Linked DNA regions of Homo sapiens. The protein of the gene in region 4 interacts with the protein of the main gene of each other region in a biochemical or structural test. Each region holds a gene or a part of one and is shown on either strand. Other genes may lie near its edges.

Region 1 (3,500 bases), on a different chromosome or scaffold from region 4:
GTGATTCATATGGGACCAAAAAAGGAAAAAGAAAAAAGCCCAAACAACCAAACCAAACCTGGGCAAAAAGAACAAAGCTGCAGACATCACATTATCTGACTTCAAAATATATTATAAAGCTATAGTAACCAAAACAGCATGGTATTGGTATAAAAATAGACATGTAGACCAATGGAACAGAATAGAGAATCCAGAAATAAAACCACATAATTATAGACAAATGATCTTCAACAACACTGACAAGAACTCACACTAAGGAAAGGACACTGTCTTCAATAAATGATGCTGGGAAAATTGCATAACTTCATGCAGAAGTGTGAAACTAGACCCCTATCTCTCACCATATACAAAAATCAACTCAAAATGGATTGAAGATTTTAAGACCCAAAACTATAAAAATACTACAAGAAAGTCTAGGGAAAACACTCCTGGACATTGGTGTAAGCAAAGAATTTATGATTAAGACATCAAAAGCCCAGGTAACATAAAGAAAACTAAACAAATGGGACTTAAGCAAACTAAAAAGCTTCTGCACAGCAAAAGAATAATCAACAGAATGAAGAGACAACCTGTTGAATGGGAGAAAATATTTGCAAAGTATTCATCAAGCAGAGGACTGATATCCAGAACATACAAGGAACTCGAACAACTCAAAAGGAAAATAACAAATAATCCCATTAAAAAAGAAGACATACAATGGCCAAAAGAAGACATGGAAAAATGTTCCACACCACTATCAGAGAAATGCACATCAAAACCACAATGAGATATCATCTTACCCCAGTCAGAATGGCTATTATTAAAAAGACAAAAAGTAACAGATGTTAGTAAGGATGCAGAGAAAAGGGAACTCTCACATACACTGTCGGTGGGAATGTAAACTAGTACAACCACTAAGGAACACTGTATGGAGATTTCTCAAAGCTAAAAATAGAATTACCTTCCATCCAGCAATCCCACTACTGGGTATCTACACAAAGGAAAAGAAATCAATGTATCAAAGGGATAGCTGCACTTGCATGTTTATTGCAGTACTATCACAATAGCAAAAATATGGAATCAACCACCTAAGTGTCCATCTACAGATGAATGGATAAAGAAGATGTCATACATGTACACAATGGAATACTATTCAGCCATAAAAAGAATGAAATCATATCATTTGCAGCAATGTGGATGGAACTGGAGGTTATTCTCTTAAGTGAAATAAGCCAGGCACAAAAAGACAAATATTGCATGCTTTCACATATATGTAGGAGCTACAAAATTTGAACACAAGGAGGCAGGGAGTGGAAAAATAGATAACAGAGACTGGGAAGGCGGAGTAAGGGAGAGAAAGGCTGAAGAGAAGTGGGTTAAAAGGTAAAAAGATCCAATGAGGTCAGTCGCGGTGGCTCATACTTGTAATCTCAGCACTTTGGGAGGCCAAGGCGGGTGGATCACCAGGTCAGGAGTCCAAGACCATCCTGACCAATGTGGTAAAACCCTGTCTCTACTAAAAATACAAAAATTAGCTGGGCGTGGTGGCACATGCCTGTAATCCTAGCTACTCAGGAGGCTGAGGCGGGAGAATCGCTTGAACCCGGGAGGCAGAGGTTGCAGTGAGGCCAAGATAACACCACTGCACTCCAGCCTGGGTGACGGAGCAAGACTCCGTCTCAAAAAAAAAAAAAAAAGATCCAGTGATAGGAGGAATAAATTCAATGTTTGATAGCTGAGTAGATGACTATACTTAATACATTGGACTCATGTACCCTGACTTGATCACTACACATTATACACATGTAAAAAAATTTTCATGTACTCCATAAATATGCACAAATAAAAGTATTGCAACAAGGTGAACTATTTTTGCTAAAAATCACTCAGTAGTTACTAGAAAATAAAGGCTATCAGAAGAAATGATAGACAATCAGATGGGCCAAAGTTTTTCAGATTTTCCAAAAGGTAGAAGATAGTTTCTGAACATTATTATGTCCAAAAAGTTCTAGGTGAGGTAAACCTAGTCTTTACTACACTCTTGCAACTAAGCTGGTGAACTAGGTAACAGTACCAGGCTGATCTGAGTTCAAATCTTGACCCTGCTTCTTGCTGGCTATGTGAACTTCTCAAGTTACTAAATCTCTCTCTCTTTCTCTCTGCAAAAAAACAAAGATAATACTACCTACTTTGCAGGTTGTTTTGTTGGAATTAAATGAGACACATCTGTATTTAAGCAACAGTGCCCAAGTGTATTAATGGGTATCAGTCTAGAGGCATGTCACTGGCAGCATGTCCAAGGGTTATTTCTGACCCTGTCTTATTCTATCCTTTACCAATAACTCAAACGTAGAAACAGAAGTCATGATTAAACCTACAGATCTAACCAAACTGGAAGAGACAGCTATTATGTTTCCTAACATGAAAGAACTAAGAATCCAGATTACCTCAACAAACAGCAGACATGCACTGACCTAAAAAAATGAATTGTAAAAGGATAAGGTCTTGATTTAGGTTCAATAAAACTGCTCTAAACCTAGAATGGAGCTAGGGAGCTGATTTTAAAAGAACATGAGTTTTCACTGACTACAAGCTCAGTATGAGCCAAGAATGTGATTTACTATAGAAAAAACGCTAATACAATTTTATCTGGTATGAATAATGGTAGTGTCCATCTCAAGACAATAATAGCTTAAGTACATTCTTCTCTGATCACTGTGTTCCACTCTGGGCACATTTTAGAAGAAAGGTTGACAAAACAGTAACATTAGGTTACTTCCAGAGGAAGGTAGCCTAAATGATGAAGGGTTTGGAATATGAAATATGCTAGGAATTGGGGGATGTTTAACTTGCAAAATCGAAAATCTGAGGAGATATGTAACCTGTATTCAAGTAAATGAGTAGCTTGAGTAGCTATTACATGGAAAAAGAATTGTGTTTAGTTCCGTATGGCTTGAAACAGCAGAAATAGTAACTACGTATAAAAGTTACATGGAACTCCAGATAACAAAGACCTAACATAGCTGTATGACATTACAGGCAAGCTTTAGGGTAATATACCATCTATCACCAGAGTGTTCAGAGACTGATTCATTTTCAACAAAAATGTATTGAGTACCTAAGTCCCACAAGGTACACAAAGCGCAGTTGATAATGACTAAATAACTTGTATGTTCTCTGCTTTTCACTGAGGTGAAGTGGTAGAAGCAAATAATAACACACACTCAAAGTAACAAAAAGATAAATCTCTAAGGAGAGGAATACAGTTCTTCAAGAGTATATAACAAAGGATCCTGACTTATAATGTGGGGTCAGAGTAGGCCTCCCTTGAGTAGCTAAGTGATGTCTGAGTAGGAGGTAAATGGTTGGGGGGAAGAACGTTACAAAGAAAGGAAACACCACTCGCAAAGACCTTGTGGTAAGAGAAACTACAGGTTCAAGGAATTGAAAGGCTCGTTTACCATATAACCTGAGCACACAGAGTAAGAGAATGAGTGGAAAGAAGCAGGAGCAGAACCACA
Region 2 (3,500 bases), on a different chromosome or scaffold from region 4:
TTGTTTATTCTCTTTCATTTACATAAATGTCTGAGTTTACATGGTAATTTGTGTGGCATCCTACTTATAAGCCTTGGAAAGGATTTTGGAGTTTATATTATGAGAATGCATCAATACAGTGAAATTTTAAAAATACCTTAGATAATGCTATTTATTAGAGTTGTAATCATAAAAGTGGCAACAACTATAACAAGTATGATTTAGTGAGCACTTACTTTATTAGCTCATCTCATCTTTGAAGCTGAGATTGGAACTCAAGTTCCTGACTACAAAGCTATGCTCTTGACCTCTAGGTCACGTGGCATCCCTAGCAAGAACTTGAAAATTTCTTCTGAATGAACAAAATAGAAATCACTAAGTGTCCTAAATTTATTTAAATTATTTCACTTGCCAAGATGCACTTGTCAAAATACACAGAGAGAGATGTGCTCTGGCTTATGTTTTTATAGAATTACTTTTGTTTTCCAGAATACTTCAGGGAAATAGGGGCAGAAATAAGGAGGTCAGTTGGGAGGCTAATTGCAGTTATCCAAGTGAGAGTTGAGGGGTGGCTTAGACAAGGGTAGTTGAGGTGGAGGTAGTGAGAGGTGATCTGCTTCTGGATATATTTTGAAGGTAGAGTCAACAGGGTCCGCTGATCAATTCATTGGTTGTGGAGTATAAGAGAAAAAGAGTGGAAGATGACTCGAGCGTTAGCATGAGCAACTGAGTAAATGATGGTGTTATTTACTGAGATGGCAAAGATCGAGAAGGCAGTGAGATTTAGGGAAACAGTGTTAGATATGTTTATCTGGAGATGCCTGTTAAACATCCAAGTGGAGATATTTAACATATCAACCCGGAACCCAGAGGAGTCAGGGCAGAAGATAACACATTTAGGAGGTACGTGAATGATACTTTAAACCTGAGGCTAGAGGAAGGTGTAAATAAAGAGGAGGTCTGAGGACTGAGTCCTGGGGCCTCATGGTGGAAGAGGTGTGTGGAGGCTGTCATGGGAGCAGAGGAGAAGGAGCACCCAAGCATCCCTGGGGGACTTAGAGAAAGCTGCACAGAGGAGCAAGTGTTTGAGTTGAGACTTGAGCAATCACTAGGCTTGTGGGAGTGCACTAGCGGGGAGAGAAAAGCAAATGCAAACACAGGAGGTGTGGGAGAAACACGGGAGGTGTGGGAGAAGCTGAAAAGTGACCCACTGAAAGATAGTACAGGAAATCTTGGAACTGCAGCTACTCAGACCCTCAAGGTCTTTGACGTTTCACTTGAAATGAAAAACTAAATCAAATGACCATTTACAGTAAGTTGACCTTTTTTTTTTTTTATTTTCTTCCAGAAAAACCTTTTGTTGCTTTTGGAAGTGGCATGGAATCTCTGGTGGAAGCCACGGTGGGGGAGCGTGTCAGAATCCCTGCGAAGTACCTTGGTTACCCACCCCCAGAAATAAAATGGTAACTACTGGAAATAAATGCAAAGCATCATTTCGTGTGAGAGCAAATCCTTTGACTATACTAATTCCTGAGAATTTTTTTTCATAGGTATAAAAATGGAATACCCCTTGAGTCCAATCACACAATTAAAGCGGGGCATGTACTGACGATTATGGAAGTGAGTGAAAGAGACACAGGAAATTACACTGTCATCCTTACCAATCCCATTTCAAAGGAGAAGCAGAGCCATGTGGTCTCTCTGGTTGTGTATGGTGAGTCCATTCAATTTTCCTCTCTGCCCAAGATTTATTATGATACATTGTCTTCCAAATCAGCCAAACCACCGTTCCTCTGCCTCCTGCTGCTTCACTCATATCATGGCTGGGCCTGCGTACAAAAGTCATCTGGCGTGGTGAAGCTGAAGTGAAACGTAGGACCATGTGCTCTGGCCATGTTTGTTTAAGAGGCCGTGTAAATGAGCTTTGTGGTGGACAAATGCAAGATTAAAGTAGTGATACCCTCGATAGCTAAATGTTGTGAAATAAGAATGCCCACAGGGACAGTTGTCAAGCTAAGTTATACTACCATGTTCCCCTCTCATGGAATTGCCCACCTGGTACACAGATGTGTAAGACCCTTCTCCTTAGATTTTGTGCAAAGCTTCTAGTTTGATGTTGTAGTTGATGTATCAGAGATGTGCAGGCACGTTCCAACTCTGAAGGCTTTTGAAGTTGACACTGTTGGCTTGGTTGGGAGCTTTTCTTTTTTCCTTTTTGACAGGAGTTCAGGATCTGATTTTGAGTCTGTAAAGGAAAGATAGTAAGTTTTTGATGTAAAGATAATTTGAACTTTGTTTTCTGAAACTGAAAGGTACAAATAAGTGTTTGGAATGGAGTGGGGAGAAGGGTGCCATGGTCAAGTGAGTGTGAGAGGTGCTAAGGTGATGTGTAGATGTGTAACAGGTTTCTTTATTGCAGGACTTCGCAGAACCTTTTATATGCTAATGTATATTGGTATTCTCCAGGAGGAGAGACATAGAGTATTCAAGGTTTAACAAACCTATTTGACCAGAGCACCTTTTTTCCCCTGAGCAAATTCATTAATCTCTCACTCCAAACAGTTTGAGAAATGCTTCTCTGTTGTAATTCTTTGTTCCCCCTTCTGGTACGGCATATTAAAACTTCAGGATATTTTCCCATGACATTAAGGTGCTTCCCTACGTGTCCTGATACTCTTCTGTAGGCCGCTGAACTTGGCTTTATTATTTTTTTTCAGGGAATATTTTAAAGATAGGCTGGGTGCCGTGGTTTGCATCTGTAATCCCAGCACTTTGGGAGGCCGAGGCGGATGGATCACCTGAGGTCAGGAGTTCGAGACCAGCCTGGCCAACATGATGAAAACCCGTCTCTACTAAAAATATAAAAATTAGCCAGGCATGGTGGTGGGCACCTGTAATCCCAGCTACTTGGGAGGCTGAGGCAGGAGAATCACTTGAACCCAGGAGGTGGAGGTTGCAGATAGCCGAGATCGCACCATTGTACTCCAGCCTGGTGACAAGAGCAAAACTCCGTCTCAAAAAAAAAGTTAACAGGTTCCAAAAAGGTTGTTTAGAAGCAGCATAGGTGTAGGGGACTGGGGAGAGGAGAAACTGGAAAGTGTATAAGTAGGATGGGAGGAGGAAATGAACAGGAAATAAAAACAAAACACGGACAGCAAATAGCCCATTTCATCAGTTCATGAAGCCACTAAATATTTTATTCACTTTAGCAAATTCTCTGCTATATGAAATAAACATAAAAAAGAAGTCAAGTCTTCAAAGCATAATCTGAGGCTTTAGGTTGACAGTAATAAGGAAATAGTTTTGACTTTGGAGTCAAAAAAGAAAGAAAGGAAAAAGGGAGAGAAGAAAGAAGGAAGTGAGAGAAGGGAGAAGGAAGAAAGGGGAAGAGGGAAAGGGAGTGGAGAGGGAGGGAGGGAGGAAGAGGGAGAGAGAATGAAAAACTCAGATGATGGTGGCAGGAATGCATTCTCTAAAGATTTACACCTTCCTTTAACATGAGGTGGTTTACGTGTTTGGGT
Region 3 (3,500 bases), on a different chromosome or scaffold from region 4:
CGGCAGGTTGAGTAGTTAAAACAGGAATTCCATGGCCAAAATATTTACACTTTGGCCCTTTACAGAACAGCGTTTGCTGACCTCTGATCTGGAACAGACGCCTTGAGGTTTCATTCATGATAGCATGCCTAATAGCTTGTGCAGTCCCTGGTACAACTCGAATGAAGTGAGTGAAATGAAACGCTATGTCTTTCTCTTTACACCGCAAGAGATGTTAAAGAAACGTGTGTCATTTGCTGCACTGAATATACGGATTCCAAGGATGAGAAAAATCACCGTGATGTTGCCTACTTAGCCATGTGTATTTATTTAAACAGCTATATTGGCATTGAATGAGGATTTCATGCTCTCAACCCTGTATCTAGAACCCAAAATATAACTGGTGTATATAATGAGATTTTTTTTTTTTCTCTCAGGCCTCTCTTGTGTTAATTTCTGTTAAGAATACTTCTGGGCCAGGTGTGGTGGCTCACGCCTGTAATCCCAAGCACTTTGGGAGGCCGAGGTGGGTGGATCACTTGAGGTCAGGAGTTCGAGACCAGCCTGACCAACATGGTGAAACCCCATCTTTACTGAAAAAATACAAAATTAGCCAGGCGTGGTGGCGCATGCCTGTAATCCCAGCTAGTTGGGAGGCTGAGGCAGGAGAATCGCTTGAACCTGGGAGGTGGAGGTTGCAGTGAGCCGAGATTGCGCCACTGCACTCTAGCCTGGGTGACAGAGCGAAACTCCATCTCAAAAAAAAAAAAAAAAAAGAATATTTTTGGCCAGGTGCAGTGGCTCATGCCTGCAATCCCAGCACTCTGGGAGGCTGAGGTGGGAGGATTACATGTGTCCAGGAGTTTCAGATCAGCCTGGACAACACAGCAAGACCCTGTCTCCACTAACAATAAAACAAAAATTAGCTGGGCATGGTGGCATGTGTCTGTAGTCCCAGCTACTTGGGAGGCTGAGATGGGAGGACCTCTTGAGGCTGGAAGGGCAAGGCTGCAGTGAGCTGTGATTGTACCACTGCACTCCAGCCTGGGCAACAGTGAGATCCTCTCTCTGTCTCAAACAAAAAAAGAATACTTCTTGGGGTGGCCTGGTTGATATTTTGCAGCTGCATGGTATTTACAGTTTTTAATTAAATAGTGACGGGTAATGCATTCTCATTGCAAAAAGAAAAATTACAAAAGTGTAGAAAGGAAAAAAAAAACACAGAAGTCCTTCTGCAAAATCTTGTGGTGGGGTGCAGTGGCTCACACCTGTAATCCCTGGACTTTTTAGGAAGCTGAGGTGGGAGGAACACTTGAAGCCAGCAGTTTGAGACCAGCCTGGGCAACATAATGAGACATTATCTCTAGAAAAAGTTTAAAAATTAGCTGAGCATGGTGGTGTGTACCGGTAGTCCCAGCTACTCAGGAGGCTGAGGTGGGAGGATCGCTTGAGCCCAGAAGGTTGAGGCTACAGTAAGCCATATTCATGCCACTGCACTCCAACCTGGGTGATAGAGCCCGACCCTGTCTCAAAAAGAAAAGAAATAATAAAAAAAAATCTTGTCCCCCTGTCCCCAAAAGCATTCCATTCATGTCCAGGGAGGTAACTGTGCCATTGGTTTATGTATCTTTTTGATGTTTAGTAATTTTTTAGGCTAGGTGTCATGGGGCCACTCCTGTAATCCCAGCACTTTGGGAGGCCGAAGCAGGTGGATCTCTTGAGCCCAGGAGTTCAAGACCAGCCTGGGTAACATAGCAAGACCCCGTCTCTACAAAACCCTACAAAAAAATTATCCAGATACAGTGGTGAGCACCTGTGGTCCCAGCTACTAGGGAGGCTGAGGTGGGAGGATCACCTGAGCCTGGGAAGTCGAGGCGCCAGTGAGCTGTGATTGCACCACTGCATCCAGCCTGGGTGACATAGTGAGACTGTGTAACAACAACAACAACAAAATATTTTAAACATTATCATACAGTAAAATTGGCTTTTTAAAGGTGTACCATTTTATGATTTTTAAGCCATGTGTAGAGTTGTATGGCTATTGCCACAATTAGGATAGAGAACAGTCTCGTTGTTGTCCAAACTCCCTCAATTCACCCCTTTATCACTAAACCACCTCCACCCCTAACCACAGATCTGTTCTCCATCCCTATAGTTTTCTCTAGACTTTAAAAGATTTTATCTTATAATTGGATTAATATTCCTAAAGTTGAAATTTTAAATTTGAGTCTGGTTGATCCTCATCATTCCCAGATCCCATATTTTCTTTTTAAAATTTAAAATTTAAATTTTTATTTTGAGAGGCAGGTTCTTGCTCTGATACCCAGGCTGGAGTGCAGTGGTGTGGTCCTAATTCCCTGCAGCCTCCAACTCTTGAGCATCAACGATCCTCCTGCCTCAGCCTCCTGAGTAGCTGGGACTACAGGCACACACCACCATGCTCAGCTAGTTTTTATTGTTATTTATTTATTTATTTATTTTTGAGACGGAGTCTCACTAACTCTGTTGCCCAGGCCAGACTGCAGTGGTGTGATCTGGGTTCACTGCAACCTCTGCTTCCTGGGCTCAAGCAACTCTCCTGCCTCAGCCTTTCTAGTAGCTGGGGTTACAGGCACGCCACCATGCCCGGCTAGTTTTTTTTATTTTTAGTAGAGATGGGGTTTTACCATGTTGGTCAGGCTGGTCTCAAACTCCTGGCTTCAAGTGATCCGCCCACTTCAGCCTCCCAAAGTGCTGGGATTACAGGCGCGAGCCACTGTGCCCGGCCTAATTTTTAACTTTTCAGCAGGGATAAGGGCTCGCTATGTTGCCCAGGCTGGTCTCGAACTCCTGGCCTCAAGTGATCCTCCCATCTTGACTTCCTAAAGTACTGGGATTACAGGCATGAGCCACTGCACCTGGCCCCAGACCCTGTATTTTTGAATTCACCTACTCACTCAAATGTATTTGTAACCCTCAAACCAGCATGCTCAGTGCCTTTCTGGTCATTTTAGGACACTCATAAGTACGAGTCTCAAATGTGAGGTCAAGTAAGAGGGCATTCCACCTTCTTGCTTCAGCCCTTATGCGTCAGATTCATACAATCTGCACACTGAGGATTAAAACTAGTCCTTTTTGAGCAGGCGCAGTGGCTCATGCCCAGCGCTTTGGGAGTCCGAGGCGAGTGGATCACGAGGTCAGGAGATCGAGACCATCCTGGCTAACATGGTGAAACCCTGTCTCTACTAAAAATACAAAAAATTAGCCAGGTGTGGTGGCGGGCGCCTGTAGTCCGAGCTACTCCGGAGGCTGAGGCAGGAGAATCACTTGGACCCAGGAGGTGGAGGTTGCAGTGAGCCGAGATTGTGCCTCTGCACTCCAGCCTGGGTGACAGGGTGAGACTCAAAACAAAAAACAACAACAAAAAAACCTGAGTCCTTTTTGTGGTTATTTGGTGCCACATTTTTAGCATTTTTGTGCTTTCAGTTGGTGATGGGGCTGTTTCAAATGCCCCCCAGGGTGCTGAAGCCCTGCTCTCTACT
Region 4 (3,500 bases):
ATATGCATCTGAAATGATTCTGCATCATGGCTGCTCCATGCTAAGCCGATCTCCGTCGTGCTGACCACTGTCACTCGGAAGTCAGAAACTGGAACAGGGGCTATGCAAAGAAAGTAAACAACTAGATTAAAAATATACTTCTCCAGGAGACAGGGATGCCCCACCTCAGAAAATACTGAGATGAAATGTACACTTAGGACACCTGATCCCTCTCTCTGTCTTCTTTGTATCATCACCTACAACATGAGCCCCTCAGAAACTGCTGTTTCTGGCCATGGAGAGAGCACTTGATCATGAGAGTGCAGAAGCTCTGTGCTTACATTGCACACAATCATTCACAGGAAATGAGAGGAGGCGTGAGCTCCTGTGGTCAAGGGCTCAGGCTCTGGAGGAGAACCTTGGCCACACTGGCTGCTTTATCTCGAATGCATTACTAGCCTCCCAGAGCCTCTGTTCAGGGAGGGACAGCAGAGAGAGACCAGTCTTGACCCCCAAAATCCATTCCCCCATTTTCCCTTCATCATACCCACCCAGATTTTTAGCCCTGTGTGTGCATACCTGTTGGAAACAAAGACCACATTTCCCAGCTCCCATGGAGCTAGATGTTGCAATGTGACTAAGTTTTGCTCAACGAAGCATGAGCAGAGGTACTGGGTGACTTCTAGGAAGTGTCCTTTAAGGGTGGGGCACAACCTTCTGCCCTTCCTCCTTCTTATACCTGTAGTGTGGATGCAATGACTGGAGCTCACGCTGCCTGGCTCTAGAACCAAAACCTCAGCGGTGGCTGCAGCTTCCTGATCCCAGGATCACAGCTCAGAACATAGACCCCTGGATCCCGCAACTACAGCAGAGACTTCCTGATTCCTCCCTCTGCTGTCTGTGACCAAGGTGGTGACTCTCCAGGGGGTCAGTTCTGCAGACTTAGTCCAGGAGTCATTTCTTGGGGCGAGGCCTAAAGCCTGCTCCTCAACTGTTATGAGCTGACTTGTGCTCCCTCACCCCCAAATGTGTATGTTTATGTCCTAACCCCCAAGACCTCAGAATGTGGCTGTCTTTGGAGACAGGGTCTTCAAAGAGGTAATTAAGTTAATGTGAGGTCATGAAGGTAGGCCCTAATCCAGCAAGACTGGTGTCCTTATAAAGGGAGATGAGGGCATAGGCACACGCAGACTAAGGACAACCATGTGAGGGAGAAGACAGTCATCTATAAGCCAAGAGGGAGGCCTCAGAAGAAACCACACCTGCCGTTGCCTTAATCTTTGACCTTCAGCCTCCAGAACTATGAGAAAGTCTATTTCTGTTCAAGCCACACAGCCTTTGGTACTTGTTCTGGTAGCCCTAGCAAACTAATACACCAGCTCTTCCAATGATTCTGCAAAACCTCAATTCCCAGGATAAATCCCTTTTGGTTAAAATAGCTCACAGTTTCTGTTTCATACAACTGAGCCTTGGATAACCTCTATCATCCCCATCCTGCCTAGCACTGGGCTTCTGTTACAGGAGAGAGAAATAAACCCCTGTCTTGTTTAAGCCACGGATACTTGGGTTTTGTTGTTGTTGTTTTTGGTGGTGTTATTCGTGGCTGAACCTAATCCTAACTAATAAATAGTAAAAGAGTAAAAGGTAAAGAAATGCAAGCATATTTCATTTTCCCAAAGATCCAGTCCAAAATACATCTATAAGAATGCTAAGGTGTGCTTCCTGCGAAGGAATGGACATTCTTGTGGGATAAGCCTGGGTCCAGAGCCACACACCCCTGAGTTCAAGTCCTGCTCTGCTACTCACTAGCTCTGTGGCTTTGGGCAAACTGTTCAGCCATCAGGGTGTCATTTCCTCATCTGTAAAAGGGGACCCCAATACCTACCTCGGAGGCCACTACAGTGTCTATAAATCTCATGGCACAGTGCAAAATGCAGTGCTGGTGTCACTACTATTGTTTAATAGTATATAATCAATATTATACCACTGTACTACTAGTGCACCATTACTGTTTTATTTTACATTATCGGACCTTCTTTGAAACCTAAAGCTTTTTATTTGCTGCATAAAATCTTATTTTTAAGGGACATTTAAACAAACAAAGATGAGATACAGCTGTGCCAGTGATTCGTTATAATGTCAGCACCCAAGACACAAGGGGATATGAATACCAGGTCATTTTTGTCTCCCTGTATCAATTCACTCTAGGTCTCCTCCACACTGGAAAGAGAGTTACAAGCGCAGGCTCCAGGTGAGAAATACCAGAGGCTTAATCTCACCTCTGCCACTTTCCAGCTGTGATACCTGTCTAGCACCTCTCTCAGCCTTGGCTTCCTATCTATAAAATAAGGCTACTTCCAACCACATCACAGGGCTGTTGTGAGCATACAATGTGCCAGTGCAAGGAAAGCATGTCACACGAAGCTTGGCGTGTGGTCAGCCAACAGTCACCATTACTACATCATGCATCCTGTGTCTGGGCCTGGCACGGAGCAGGACAGCAGGAAAGGGTGGTGAGAGCCAGGCATGAACTCACGGGTGTGCACTTGGAGGAAGCCCGGCGTGCCCTCGATGTCACCTAGGACAGGACACACTGTGATGTTGTAGAAGGTGCTGGAGCGGAGTCCGGGGATGACAGCGCGAGGCTCACTGACGTTGAGATTGGAAGAATCTGTCTCCCCCGCCACATGTATCTTGTAGGTATAGTTAGATGACGACTCGTTATCGCTGACTTTCCAGATCAGGGTCAGGCTTGTGGCACTGATGTTCACAGCGGTGACGTCAAAAACCTGAATAGCATCTGTGAGAACACAAGAGGAGTTCAAAATAACCAGAACGGCCAAGGCAGAGGGAGGGAGAGGTCATCAGGGCATGCTGTCAAGCCCAGCAAACTCTCCTGGGGGAGTGTTCCTTCCTCCTCTGCACCATCAACCGTGGCTAGGAAAGCATGACGGTCCCAGCCAAAGTCAGGCATCATTGGGCGGTGAAGAAACAACCTGGCCAATGGCACCTGCAGGGTTATTCTTTGTTCCTTTTTGTAAGTTGACTTTAGAGATTTGACCTAAATGATGACTTGGACTCTATGCATGTCTTACCCTAGGGCCAGGGGCACCCAGAAAAGTTGTCAAACACACATGATGCAAGAGCGAACACTGCGATCTATGTGATCGCCCGAGATCACAGAAGTCAGGACGAGGCAGGCCTGGGTTCCAGGGCTCACTCTGCTATGACACCCAGGTGGGCCACAGGAAAACCACTTGAGCTCAGCTTCCTCACCTATAAAACTGGAGAGCAATCCTAACCTCAAGAAAAGATAACCCGAGTGCCAGTTATTCACCACCTGCCCACTCCACCCTCCCGACATATCCACTGCCCTTCCCTCACCTGCTCTGGGCCCAGGAGGCTGACCTTGTGCAAGGCATCATGGGGGGTCTTGCCACATGGGCTGTGACCGGGTTCCACTATGAGCCAATGGGCAGGCCCCTGAAGGGCCACAGGAGAAAGGAGTCAGTGCCTTCCTC
Region 5 (3,500 bases), on a different chromosome or scaffold from region 4:
GCACATGAGACTTTTCAAATGTGCTGAAACACCCTAATGTAAGCCAGATATTGTATCATTCATCACATTTACATTTATGCTAATTTACTTGGTTGTCAAGATTAAGCCACACTAACAGCATGGTGCAACAAATCAAATTGTCTGTGTTTTAACAACTTAAACCCCAATTTAAAAAACCTGGGTAGGCATTACCCAATTTGGCTGAACAGTTTCTTTTACAGACTTCTTAACAAACTATGTTACCTTAGAACTTAATGTTACTTATGAAGGCCAGCATGGAAAAAAAAATGACAGACTAGAAGCATGTATTACCCCAGCAAAGGCAAAGTAATTTTTAAGAAGTTGTTATATGAACAGAATGGAAAGATTATACAGTCTCACTGTTCTTAAATAATTATGTCAAATACATTAATAATCTTAAGTCTGATTTGATATTATATACTCTGGAGAAGAGGTTACTAAATAGCAGCTGAAGGCCATTATCTAGCTTGCAGAAGTGTTTGGGTTGGCCTGCAATGTTTTCTTAATAATTAAATTAGTTGATAGAACTTTAAAAATTGAGAGATAATACATATAAAATCTGAAATCTCTGGCTTTTCCTGATATACCAGAAGATTTGCCTGCATGGGTGCATCATTTCACAAGTCAACAAAGGATTGTAGCAGTGTAGGTTAGTTACTCCCATTAGATGGGGCTACGGCAGTCCAGTTTCTTCTAATTCTCCCCAGTTGTCCGCTCACCCCGTGAGTATTTCAGCTTGTAACCTCTGCTCTAGAGATAGGAGACTTATAAATATCACCTCACATCAACATGTGATATCATAATTGTTAATTTATAAATGGCAGTACTGCTTTGCTTAAATAACTTGATGGCTATGGAACTATGAAATATTTCAGAATTTCTAGTCCAAATTCTATTTTGGATTTAATGGCAGTTAAAGATAGATCTAACTTGGCACTCCCCAAGCCTTTTACTTTGCCATGCTCTCCTTACCTTTTCTGTCTGGCTTGAGGTTCCTATCCACGGGGGGTGGTTCACAGTCTGCAACAGGAACTGGCCTTCTGGGAGGGGTTTTTGGGCTGGACCTGAAGCCCATATGAGCAGGAGGAGGAACTTGCATTCCAAATGAGGAAAAATCAAATGTTCCTGGAGTCATTGGCACATAATTTGCTTCCTGAATTGGTTCTGTAAAACTGCTGGAATGTTGTCGTGGTGGTGAATTGGGATTCATTGGGACGTAATTTTCATCCAGTTCTTCACTTGAAACACTTCCCACTGTCAACACATTTTTGACTTTCTAAAACACATATATATTTCTTTTAATAAACAAAAACTCTTGTCACACATGAAAACACAATTGTAAGTCACACTCATTCATATGGATCTCAGCGTACTTTTATTTCATGATATCACTTAGTCTCATGGCACTAATTATGAAGATTTAGACAATGAAATACACTTGATGATGCCAAGGTCAATTATACTTACAAAGTGGTTATGGAAGCCTTCAAGTGAACTAGATCTATCACTTGGAAATGCTCGTGGAATATCATAGCAGTCTTGAGAACTAGCATCTAAAATAAAGAACAAACTATCAACATTTATTCCCATCTTTGCCAGCTCTCAGGGTCATTGGGATGACCTATTATCTTTCTCTCATTATACATATGCATACACACATGCACACACACAGAATTTTAAAAAGGATGCTCATAGAACTGTGTCTTGAATTGGCATATTAAACCACTAGAAAATGCAGACACTCACTCATATGCTAACCAATACCAATATCTAATTTTGAGTGTGAGTGAATGTCTAAGTCTGGGATAAGATAGGTTATCTAAAGATGAAGAGAAACACCTCTATTTTCTCATCGTTTGCACCACCTTGGGCATAACTTACATCTCACTAACTGATAACCAGGTTATACAGTCACTTCAAGAAAGGAGTTAGATACTGTTATTGAATGGTGAAATAAGTACTGATTTAAGTAATAATCACAGATACATTAAAATCTTGGAGATAGCTGAGGAAAACTCTACCACAAAATACAGAAATTTTAGCACATACTGTTTAGGATATGTGCATTAAAAACTTTAGCTTTCTATTTGTAGGACTTTGAGAATCTCAGAGAATCACCCAGACTCATTTTTTTCTTCTCCTCTCAAGGTCTGTAACTTTTGGATACAGACTCTAGGAGACAGTATAGGAAAGTATACTCACTAGCAATGAGTGAAGTGGGTAGTGATAAGGGGAAAGAAGATTCAGCTCTTTAAACACAAGTAAAAATCAAACAGCATAATGGCTTGACTGGAACAGAATATCACCTGTTAGACACAACATAAAAACTGCTTATATAGGAAGGAAGGAAATAGAGCCCAACAGATGTGACTTAGAAGCGGCCATAATGGCACACAAATACAGGAAAGGGTATGACTCGGAGAGGCTTTGTGGCTGGTCCATTTCCTGCCCTTCTGTCCCAACAGAGGGCCTATCCACCCAGGATTATAGAAAGTGGGAGAGAGAAGGGCACACTTCCTGAGGCAGGAAGGCATTACTAAGGCCATACTTCTTCAGGGGTGAGAAACTCCAACTCTTTTTCCCTTCCAGCAGAGCATGAATGCAATATACCCTTCCAGGTAGCTGTAGAGCTGGAAAAAAATGGACTGTATTTTGTAGCATAGTATATTTAACTACGCTTAAAAGAACAAATATTCAGAAAAATCGATTTTCTATCATTAACCTCTAATAGAGAAGAAGTCAACTAGAGCTGACCTTTTCGCAATTTGTTTAAATCCACAGTGGAAATGGTATTACTACGTGAAGGCGACATCCCTGCTGTAGGGATACAGTAACTACTGTCAGTGTCTGAGGCGGTGCGTGGGATACTACACGTTTCCACAGGAGATCGGTCATGAGCTGGATGTGGTTTCGGTGGCCGAGGTGGAGGAATATCTGGAATAGTGTCTAGCTTTGATGTCTGTCCCAAGGTTCCTTCTGGAAATGTTCGTGGAATCTGATAAGTATTACCAGGTGTTGGAGGAATGTCATAACTAATAGATACATGCCTCATTTGAGTCTCTACACTCGATGTCCCAGATGGGGTATTAAAAACATAGAGTTCTCCATCTGCTTCAGTACTTGATGGAGACACCTTTGGTAAAACATCATGGGAATAACTCCTGGGCAGGTTATAAAGGCTGGAGTCAACTGAAGCAGATGGGGCACGTGAAGGTGGAGAGTCGTATATCATTTGCTGCTGAAAAAAGCCATTCATTCCATGTTTGCTCTGGGAGGAAGCAGGATTTTTATGAGAAGGGACGTTATCATTGCAGTCTGTTTCAGAAGAGGTGGATTTTGCAGAATCAGCATGCGTTCTAAATAAAAATTGTTAATGACAGAATAAACAAGGTGGAGACTAAGAATACATTTTTTATAAACATGTTTATCGCTAAGCAATCAAAAGATAGGGCTTTTCTCATTAGATTTTTTGTGTGATC
Region 6 (3,500 bases), 9.7 Mb from region 4:
TACGCGTGAGCTACTGCACCCGGCTGAGTGATTTTTTTTTTTTTTTTTTTAAGATAGAGAAAGTCCCTCATACTGAGGAGCCTTGCAGTTGAGAGAGAACAGAATTCCAGTTGGAGGATCAAGGAATTTGAGGGAGGCAGCATGCTTGCAGTGTTCCTAGGATTTTTACAGGAACTACAATAGAAAGTTAGGGATGAAATTATATTGAAAGGAGAAAGCTGGACTGCTCAGGTTTGGAGGTCATGGGGAATTCCAGGATTCAGTATGTGGTTGCTCTCTTATTTTTAACTTCTGCTTAGCAGTAAAACCACACCCTTCCTTCTTCCTGAAAGTAATGTTTAACTTCCTCTCCCTGCAGCATTACACTCTATGTAATGGGAGTGGGGTGGAGGAAGAGTCTCCCAAGGTGGTTGGATCTCACTATTCTACTGGAAGAGGAGCAGGCAAATATATTTTTATGTGGTATAATGTCATTAGATTATTTCCTGCTGCTTAAGACAGAGCAACTTCTGGATGACATTTTGGAATGTATTCTGTGGCTCTAATAATTGTTGGTAAAGATATTGAGCCTTCTGTTTTCTTGAGGGGAGTTGGGGTGCTTGTTTTTGTACTTGGAAAGGGAGACTCGTATCTCTTGCTTTTTTCTTTAATTAAATTTCTGTTTTTTACATTAGGACATGATAGCCATCTTGCTTCTTTCTTTAAAAAGCTGCCTGGAATGGGAGTTTCCAGTGGTAGTACTGCATGAAGATTCATGAGACTATAAAGCTCTTTGGAAACCCCCCAACTTAGCCCTTCCAACTTTCCTTACATTTTTATGGCTTTCCAAAAAGGTTGCATGTAAGGGAAATTATCTAGGTCTGTGCTGTTTATTCAGCAAATAGTTTTTGAGCACCTGTTATGTGCCAGGCACTGTTCAAGGCACTAGACTAAACTAAACTTATCCCAAAAAACCCTCTGCCCTCGTGGAGTTTACGTTCTTATGTTCCAGAGACCCTGTCTGCCAGAGTTCCAGGCCTGATTTTCAATTTTGAGGAAAGTGCTAAGACTAAAGAGTGAATGGTTCTTTTATGAGTACTGACACAAGGACTCCAGGCCACACATATCTTCTTGAAAGCCCTTTTCCTGTTTGAAAAAAAGATCGTTTGTATTTGATAGAGCAAAAGAAGGCCACAAAATGAATTGTCTTCTTGTGGGCTGTGTTTCAGAACGGCCGGTTTGTGGGCGATGCTGACCTTGAAAGACAGAAATTTTCAGATTTGAAACTCAACGGACCCCAGGTAATTCTTTGGCTCAAGACCTGGGTTGCTTCATTCATATTTTCTTATTTCCCCAGCCTATAAGAGCATATTTGTGTCTTGTAAGGTGCCTGGCACATTGTACATACTCGTCAATTAGTTTCTTTTATTTACGAAAACAAAGAAGTGGAGCTCCAAAGTATATATGCAGTTTTGTTTTGGAATGAATTTTAATGACCATTGATCTTTATGACTATTCCTCCTCCCCACTGCCACCCCATTTGATCCCTAAGTACTGCGTTTCTTTTCTAGAGACAGTAGGCTTCTACTTTGCAGCAAAAAACCCTACCTAAAATCTGGCTGGTCTTGAGCCTTTTAGACGGTATCTGAAGAGTAACATAAAGCCAGTCAAAAGATGGCTCTTACTGGGATTTTCAGGTTTGTCTTAAAAGTTCTTTATTTTTGGCCAGGCATGGTGGCTCATGCCTGTAATCCCAGCACTTTGGGAGGCTGAGGTGGGCAGATCACCTCAGGTCGGGAGTTGGAGACCAGCCTGACCAACATGGAGAAACCCCGTCTCTACTGAAAATACAAAATTAGTCAGGCGTGGTGGCACATGCCTGTAATCCCAGCTACTCGGGAGGCTGAGGCAGGAGAATTGCTTGAAACCAGGTGGCGGAGATTGTGGTGAGCTGAGATCATGCCATTGTACTCCAGCCTGGGCAACAAGAGCAAAACTCTGTCTCAAAAAAAAAAAAAAAGTTCTTTATTTTAGACTGGGCACGGTGTCTCATGCCTGTAATCCAACACTTTGGGAGGCCAAGGCAGAGCAAAACTCCGTCTCAAAAAAAAAAAAAAAACAAAGTTCTTTATTTTGGCCAGGCGTGGTTTGCTCATTCCTGTAATTCCAGCACTTTGGGAGGCTGAGGCTGGAGGATTGCTTGAGCCCAGGAGTTCAAGACCAGCCTGGGCAACATAGACCCTGTCTCTACAAAAAAAATAAAATTAGCCAGGCATGGTGGCGTGAGCCTGTAGTTCTAGCTACTCAGGAGGCTGAAATGGCAAGATTGCTTGAGCCTGGGAGGTTGGGGCTCCAGTGAGCTATGATCATGCCACTGCACTCTAGCTTGGGTGATAGAGTGAGACCCTATCTCAAGTAAATAAATACAAGTTATTTATTTATTGGGTGAGCTGCTCTTTTGAGGGATCACTCAGATATAGATGAAACTGCATTTAACACAGTTCATGTTCACTTAGATGACCACAGCTGGGAAGTTAAATCTACTGTCTGTCACTTGGATGTTGATGTGGCTATAGTTAGTTCATGTTTGTTAAATGACTACAACTGGGAAATTATGTCTACTGTCCTTTTGTACAAGTTCAAAAGATGACAGCCACCCATCTAAAAATCCTGAGGCCTATAGAAGATGCATGAGGAGTCCCTGTCTCCAGGTTTACCACTTATGCTTCTTATTAGGATGGCTTGTTATACATAGCACTTAATAGTAGTTTCTTCTCTTTTCTCTTTTGCATATAGGATCACAGTCACCTTCTATATAGCACCATCCCCAGGATGCAGGAGCCGGGGCAGATTGTGGAGACCTACACGGAGGAGGATCCTGAGGGAGCCATGTCTGTAGTCTCTGTGGAGACCTCAGATGATGGGACCACTCGGCGCACAGAGACCACGGTAAACTAAGACGTGTGTAAGATCTGGAAGTGATAAGAGGTCTTTTCTTCTCTATTAGGGGAGGGGTTAAGCACTTAATTAAGATGGAGGACTGATATGCCATTATTGATCTGATTGCATGAAGTGATCTCTGGCCAGATAGAAAGGATGAAGAGATGGGAAAATCTTATGGGATAGGGAAGACAGAAGGTATATCAGGGTCTATAGTAGCTTCCCTTATAAGCATAGTTACTGTCAGGGCAATTTTCCTGCTTGGGGACTTCCTATAGGATGGAAAGAAAGATAGATGGTAGGCTTTAAGGCATTCCTAGGTAAAGTGACCTAGGGATATAAAGATTTGTTTCTTTTGGAGTGGTATAGAATTTAATTGTTCATGGCTGGGCGCGGTGGGTCACGCTTGTAATCCCAGCCCTGTGGGAGGCTGAGGTGGGCGGATCACGAGGTCAGGAGTTTGAGACCAGTCTGGGCAACATAGTGAAACCCCGTCTCTACTAAAAATACAAAAAATTAGCCAGGTGTGGTGGTGTGTGCCTGTAATACCAGCTACTCGGGAGGCTGAGGCAGGAGAATTG

What was found.
Region 1: of the proteins of PTPRJ (region 4) and NSF, one has a biochemical effect on the other in vitro, tested with the Homo sapiens proteins (one large-scale study listed by IntAct).
Region 2: of the proteins of PTPRJ (region 4) and KDR, one has a biochemical effect on the other in vitro, tested with the Homo sapiens proteins (one study listed by IntAct).
Region 3: of the proteins of PTPRJ (region 4) and INSR, one has a biochemical effect on the other in vitro, tested with the Homo sapiens proteins (one large-scale study listed by IntAct).
Region 5: of the proteins of PTPRJ (region 4) and GAB1, one has a biochemical effect on the other in vitro, tested with the Homo sapiens proteins (one large-scale study listed by IntAct).
Region 6: of the proteins of PTPRJ (region 4) and CTNND1, one has a biochemical effect on the other in vitro, tested with the Homo sapiens proteins (one study listed by BioGRID).

The regions. Positions count from the first base shown.
Region 1 is NC_000017.11:46,593,669-46,597,168, reverse strand, and holds part of NSF (vesicle-fusing ATPase), read right to left. Parts: intron 1-3,500.
Region 2 is NC_000004.12:55,108,596-55,112,095, reverse strand, and holds part of KDR (vascular endothelial growth factor receptor 2 precursor), read left to right. Parts: intron 1-1,327; coding exon 1,328-1,442; intron 1,443-1,529; coding exon 1,530-1,693; intron 1,694-3,500. UniProt on the Homo sapiens protein: Tyrosine-protein kinase that acts as a cell-surface receptor for VEGFA, VEGFC and VEGFD. Plays an essential role in the regulation of angiogenesis, vascular development, vascular permeability, and embryonic hematopoiesis.
Region 3 is NC_000019.10:7,284,415-7,287,914, reverse strand, and holds part of INSR (insulin receptor isoform Long preproprotein), read left to right. Parts: intron 1-3,500. UniProt on the Homo sapiens protein: Receptor tyrosine kinase which mediates the pleiotropic actions of insulin.
Region 4 is NC_000011.10:48,127,059-48,130,558, reverse strand, and holds part of PTPRJ (receptor-type tyrosine-protein phosphatase eta isoform 1 precursor), read right to left. Parts: intron 2,780-3,500; coding exon 2,516-2,779; intron 101-2,515; coding exon 1-100. UniProt on the Homo sapiens protein: Tyrosine phosphatase which dephosphorylates or contributes to the dephosphorylation of CTNND1, FLT3, PDGFRB, MET, KDR, LYN, SRC, MAPK1, MAPK3, EGFR, TJP1, OCLN, PIK3R1 and PIK3R2. Plays a role in cell adhesion, migration, proliferation and differentiation.
Region 5 is NC_000004.12:143,437,876-143,441,375, reverse strand, and holds part of GAB1 (GRB2-associated-binding protein 1), read right to left. Parts: intron 3,378-3,500; coding exon 2,776-3,377; intron 1,575-2,775; coding exon 1,489-1,574; intron 1,298-1,488; coding exon 994-1,297; intron 1-993. UniProt on the Homo sapiens protein: Adapter protein that plays a role in intracellular signaling cascades triggered by activated receptor-type kinases. Plays a role in FGFR1 signaling. Probably involved in signaling by the epidermal growth factor receptor (EGFR) and the insulin receptor (INSR).
Region 6 is NC_000011.10:57,792,802-57,796,301, forward strand, and holds part of CTNND1 (catenin delta-1), read left to right. Parts: intron 1-1,208; coding exon 1,209-1,280; intron 1,281-2,775; coding exon 2,776-2,928; intron 2,929-3,500. UniProt on the Homo sapiens protein: Key regulator of cell-cell adhesion that associates with and regulates the cell adhesion properties of both C-, E- and N-cadherins, being critical for their surface stability.